Regions from separate parts of the Homo sapiens genome. Here region 2 is linked to region 1. Evidence: fine-mapped expression QTL. Tissue or cell type: monocytes. Region 1 holds a variant in brackets; the other region holds the start of a gene. All regions are shown on one strand. Distances are between the middles of the regions.

What was found. PIP is the estimated chance that this variant, and not a neighbour inherited with it, causes the effect. A credible set is the group of variants that fine-mapping cannot tell apart.
Region 2: it holds the start of ZNF287, and the variant in region 1 is the best candidate, but not a certain one, in a credible set for the expression of ZNF287 in monocytes (TOPMed, PIP 0.67).

The regions. Positions count from the first base shown.
Region 1 is chr17:16,962,333-16,965,239 of GRCh38, forward strand. The region is part of intron 1 of TNFRSF13B (TNF receptor superfamily member 13B); the gene reads right to left. Among named protein-coding and RNA genes, the nearest start is that of TNFRSF13B, 8.3 kb to the right of the region's middle. RefSeq lists an enhancer at 2,231-2,500. The variant G/A (reference allele first, on the strand shown) is at 1,465.
Region 2 is chr17:16,567,571-16,570,477 of GRCh38, forward strand. ZNF287 (zinc finger protein 287) reads right to left here and starts at 1,634. Exons shown (of 6, transcript NM_020653.4): 1 at 1,382-1,634; 2 at 1-359. The coding sequence starts at 161. RefSeq lists enhancers at 697-1,198, 1,199-1,698.

The DNA.
Region 1 (2,907 bases):
CCTGTCTTCACTGAAAATACAAAAATTAGCTGGGTGTGGTGGTGCATGCCTGTAATCTCAGCTACTTGAGAAGCTGAGGCAGGAGAATCACTTGAAACCAGGAGACAGAGGTTGCAGCGAGCTAAGATTGTGCCACTGCACTCCAGCCTGGGCCACAGAGTGAGACTCGGTCTCCCCCCCCAAAAAAAAAGAAAGAAAAAAAAAAGAAAGGAAAAGAAAGGTAATCATAGGACATGTACAGCAGCTCAGCTGTGGGCAATATTTATATTGTCATAAATAAATGAGCCATCTGAGTCAACAAATAAGGTGGAGATGTGGAATTATTCCTTCTGTAAAAGAGTTTACTCACTGTGAGAGCCATTAGACCATTGTCAGTGAGCAAAGGCAAAAACAGGCTTTCTAGGAGAGAGCAAGGAGAAGGGGAAGAACAAAACTGCAGAGGAGTTGACATTCTGGAGCAGAGCCGGCAGCCAGCAGGTCTATCTTGACTCCAACTGAAAACGCACCCCTCCTTCACCGGGGGCCGGGGGAGGGGAAGCTGCATGCATGCAGATAGTGACGTCCAAGTTAAGTTCTCACCTTAGAAAGTGGGGAATCAATCCAGAGCGTCTAAAATGGACAAGTCAAGGACCAGCAGGGGGAGTGGACCAGATTCTGAGCCACTTTGGGGATGAGCCTGGGGAAAGCCACAGGGCAGCCCTGCTTGGAACCCTGGGCTGTGAGTCATGGGGCTGGTACTCCTTGCTGTGTGACCTTGGGCACGACTTCTGCTCTTGGACACCCAGCGTCCTCCCCTGTAAGATGAGGATGCTGTTGCTTACTCACAGAATCACTGTGAGCAGCATATGCATGGCAGGTGCCTAGTATGGTATTGAGCACGTTAGTAAAGACAACCCCCTGAGCTGCTGCCCTTATTAATATTGCCATTTCTTATGATAAGGAGTGCTGTGCTGGACAAGGCCTACACCTGGATCGAGACAACAAAAATTTTAGGGGCCAATTCCTGTTGGCGTGAGCCAACTCCCTCTTTTCCTCCTTGGTGGGGAGGTGTCTGTGCAGGAGTGAAGGAGCAGGGTTGGGGCGATGGGTGGGCTCCTCATTCTTGCCCTTTACAATTTCACCAAGAAAACCTGTAGATGTGACTGAAAGAGAAGGAACAGTAAAAGCTTGGCAGATAGGAGGAATTTCTTATCAAGTTTTGTTTTTGTTTTTGTTTTTGTTTTTTTGGTTTTTTCGAGACGGAGTCTGGCACTGCCACCCAGGCTGGAGTGCAGTGGCACCATCTCGGCTCACTGCAAGCTCCACCTCCTGGGTTCACGTCATTCTCCTGCCTCAGCCTCCAGAGTAGCTGGCACTACAGGTGCCCACCACCACGCCTGGCTAATTTTTTTGTATTTTTAGTAGAGACAGGGTTTCACCGTGTTAGCCAGGATGGTCTCGATCTCCTGACCTCCTGATCCACCC[G/A]CCTCGGCCTCCCAAAGTGCTGGGATTACAGGCGTGAGCCACAGAGCCCGGCCTTTCTCATCCAGTCTTTCAAGCAAACACTGACTGCAAACTTGGGCTGGGGGCTATGAGTTGAGCTCACCAGTGGGGTAGGGGCAGGAGAGGATTCCAGCGTGCAGAGATAGGGTGTGTGCCCCGATAAGGCTGCAGCCTGAGACCTGAGGGATGTGCATGGGAATGGATGGTGACCTTACAACCTGGCTTCTGCTAACTGGGAAGGAGAAGGAGGAAGAAATGGAGGAGGAAAAGAAGGATGAGGAAGAGGAGGCAGAAGAGGAGAAGAAGGGAAAAAGAAGAGAGATGAGGAAGACAGGGAAGAGAAGGAGAGAAGGAAGGAGGAGGAGGAAAAGATGGCTTTTGGTTTCTGTGAGCTGTATATGCTTTTTCCCCGGGCTATTTTGAAATACTGAAAATGGCTCTAAGACCCCCCTGCCTGCTCCCACCTCCACTCAGAATGAACCTTCAGAGATGTTCAAGGTTGAGAGTCCACCATCTCCATGCCTTTTTTTTTTTTTTTTTTTTTTGAGATGGAGTTTCACTCTTGTTCCCCAGGCTGGAGTGCAGTGGTGAGATCTCGGCTCACTGCAACCTCTGCCTTCCGAGTTCAAGCAATTCTTCTGCCTCAGCCTCCCAAGTAGCTGGGATTACAGGTGTGTGCCCCTACACCCGGCTAATTTTTGTATTTTTAGTAGATGAGGTTTCTCCATGTTGGTCAGGCTGATCTCGAACCCCTGACCTCAGGTGATCTGCCTGCCTCAGCCTCCCAAAGTGCTGGGATTACAGGCGTGAGCCACCACGCCCGGCCTCCCATGCTGGTTCTAAAGGAAGAAGAACTTAGTTAGGTCCTGGGAAAACTGGTCAAGTCACCTTCTCAGTTTTCTGTTTGTGAAATGGGGACAGCCACTTCTACCCATCATAATTTTCACCTCCTGCCAGCTCATGTTGAAAACGGATTCGCCATGGTTCAGTGACCCAGAGTGTGCCGGAGTGAAGTGCCCGTGGTGGGGAAAGCACGGCTGAGTCATCTTGGGAAGGACTCTGGCTGTGCACAACCTCAGTTTTCCTGACCTGTAAAATGGACACTCTAGACTTTCTTTTGTAGATCTTCTCAAGGGTGTGTACATGACAAGCATGTAACTGGCCCAAGACATGGCTGCTGCTACTGGTATAATAACTACCAGTAGTGATATAAATAGTATGAAATATAATGGGTTAATAGTTATCATTTTATAATAATTTATAATAATGTAAAATAATTTTAATATTAGTGATAATTAACATTTTCTTTTGTAGAGACAGGGTCTTGCTCTGTCTCTACAAAATTACAGTGGTGCAATCATAGCTCACTGCAGCCTTGAACTCCTGGGTTCAAGTGATTCTTTCCCCTCAGCTTCCCAATTAGCT
Region 2 (2,907 bases), 390 kb before region 1:
TTCCTAAAATTCTGTCGACAGGTCTCAGTGTCACGCAAGAATCTTGAAGTAAGGATTTCCTTCTCAACATTGTAGGGTCCACTCTGAGCCTTGTCTGACTTCCACCTTAGAAGGATTTGAGAACGTGAAGAACTGTTCATCCTCTTGCTTGAGGCTAACATTGCTACAGACAGGAGAGTCAATCTGGCAATATCCTTTATTTCTCCAGTAGTGAGCCAACTGCTTGAAGTCTCATGCTAGAGTCACAAGGACACTATATCAAAGGCTGCTGCAGCCGAGGGCAGAACAGAATCAAGGTAGAGTTAGCAGCCTTAGTGACAAATTCTGAGCCCAGAACTTGCAGGGATGGATAAGAGACCCTGAAACACAAGCATGGACCACAAGGTCAAGAATCCCTGGTGTACTCTACTATACATATACACACACAGAAACAGACTCGCAGTGTGCATAGATGAACACACATAAGCTTTACCTTGTCTTCCTCCCCTATATCCTTAGACTTGTAAGGGAACTGCCATCTGCTTGGGGTTGGTGGGGGATGGAGCTGCTATTAAAAAGGTAGTGTCAGAGGCAATGACTCGAATCTAAGCCAAACAACAGATTAAACCTCTAACCTGTTGTAACAAAAATTAAACATTTTTATAGAGAAAATAGTTTCATTATTTTAGTCACTGATGTTACAGAAGCTGTAATGACTGAACGGACTCTCAACAATAACAAAGTGAATCTGTTACTTGGAAGAAACTAGGAGAATTTCTTCTTAATACAGTGCTCAAGGTTCCCAAGGGAACTGTCAGGGGAAAGGGCGAGCCATTTATCTGCGTTGCATGTTAATGCCAGCCGATTCTAGCCTTTCACTATCAGAGGGTTGGGAAGACCAGCGGGTTGGACTGGAAAAGAGTGAAGAGGTTGGTGTGACTTCAAGTCCTTTAAGTGCTTCTATAGGAGACAGTTCTTTAGGGATATATTCGAAACCAGGATTCTCGAAGGAAACCTTAGAACCGGCCTGATCTGGAGGAGAACCGACACCACCTCTCCCCAGGCTCCAGCTCCGAGCCCTGCTGAGGCACAGTCGTGCCACCAAAGACAACTGTTTACAAGGCCCTGCGGAGGTGATGCGACAGCCTTGCCTTGCCTCCTGTCGCCTCCCCTTCCCGGCCAAGTCCCTCTGCCTCTTACTCCTCTTCAGCCGCAGGGTCGAGGTCGAGGGCAGCGGGGGAGTCGGGGACCGTGCGACGCGCAACGCTGGGACTGGGCCCACAGCAGCCTCCACCCCGTCTTTGCCCTCCCGCAAGCCACGAGCACGGGAGCCCGCGCGTGGACGGGCTCGGGCTGTCACTGATCGCGCGGACACTCGCGCGCTGCGCCCGGACATCAATACCTGTCGCTGGGACCCGGCCGACGGGCAGCCGGAGCGGCCCTAAGGCCACAGGCAACAATGGCGACGCTGGCACAGGCGCCTGCGTGGCGGGCTCAGTCCCGAGCGGCAGCGGATCCTCGGGCTCCGCCACTTCCCTTCCCCGCAAAGCACAGAGTGTCCCGGCCAGGAGCTGCACGTTCCAGCCCGGTCCTGAGAAGCCCGGCCCAGAAACCCCGGCGCCTCTGCTTAGCCGCGACCTCGCCTCGGCGTCACTGCGCATGTGCGCCAGAGGAACGCTGCGCGCCCGCAGAGCCAATCGGAGCCCAAGCTGCCGCCTCCCCCTCCCGCGCCTCTGGCCCTGGACCTGTCTCCATGGCAACCTCCTCCACCCATCGCTCTGACTTGCTTGTCAGCCTGCGAGGTTCCGAAGGGAACTTCAAAGTTTCCCCGGGCAGACGCAGGTCTGGTAGACGTCTTGGAGGCCAGGGAGGTGCCAGTAGCTGGAGGAGCGCCGGGAGTTGAAGCCCCGCGCCAACTACGCAGAGAAAACTGGGCGCCAGATTTCCTAGAGGAAGAATGGGCAGGGAAGATGTGGGTCTAAAGGCAGAAAGACTTAATGTGCGGTTTCGGGCTTTACTGTGCATACATACTAACTGTGAAAGGTTTTCACTTCCTCCTCAGGAATTTGATTCTGAGACTCTCAGATTGGGGGAAAAAAACCCATGTTCTTTCTTTCTTTCTTTTTTTTCTTTTGAGACGGAGTCTCGCTCTGTCGCCCAGGCTGGAGTGCAATGGTGCGAGCTCGGCTCACTGCAACCTCCGCCTCCTGGGTTCAAGTGATTCTCCTGTGTTCAAGTGATTCTCACTTGAACTTCCTGGGTTCAGCCTCCCGAGTAGCTGTTATTTCTAAGAGACACAAAACAAAAATACATAAAACACTGGAAAAATAAAAGCATAGAAAAACATATTCAAGGTGTTCCCGTTATCTACTGTTCTATTAACAAACCACCCCAAAACTTAGTGGTTTTGAAGGACAATCACCGTATTATGCTCATAAATTTCATGGTGAGGAATTTGAAAGGGGAACTGAGTGGGTGGGCCTTTGCCTCATTATGTCTGTAGCCTCTGTTGGGATGATTTGATGGCTGGGAGGGCCCGCTTCCAAGATGGCTTTTCCACTCACATGTCTACTGCTTGGGAGGAGATGGGCTAAAAGATGAACTCGGCTTGTGTTTGACCAGAGTGCCTCAATGTGGTCTCTCCAGCATAAAGGACTGAGGGCAGCTGGACTTGTTACATGGTGGCTCTGGGCTCCAAGAGTGAGCATTCCAGTGAACAAGAGAGAAGCGCCATGGCCAATTATAACATGGCCTTGGAAGTCACCTAACACCAATTCTGTCAGACTCTTGGTCAAAGCAATCACAAGCCTACAGAGAATCAAATGGAGGCAGAATCCTGTGAGGGTGGAGGAGGACTGTCAAAGACTCTTAATATCACCACACCAGGAAAATTTTAACAAAAAGAAAGTTGGACCGGGCGCGGTGGCT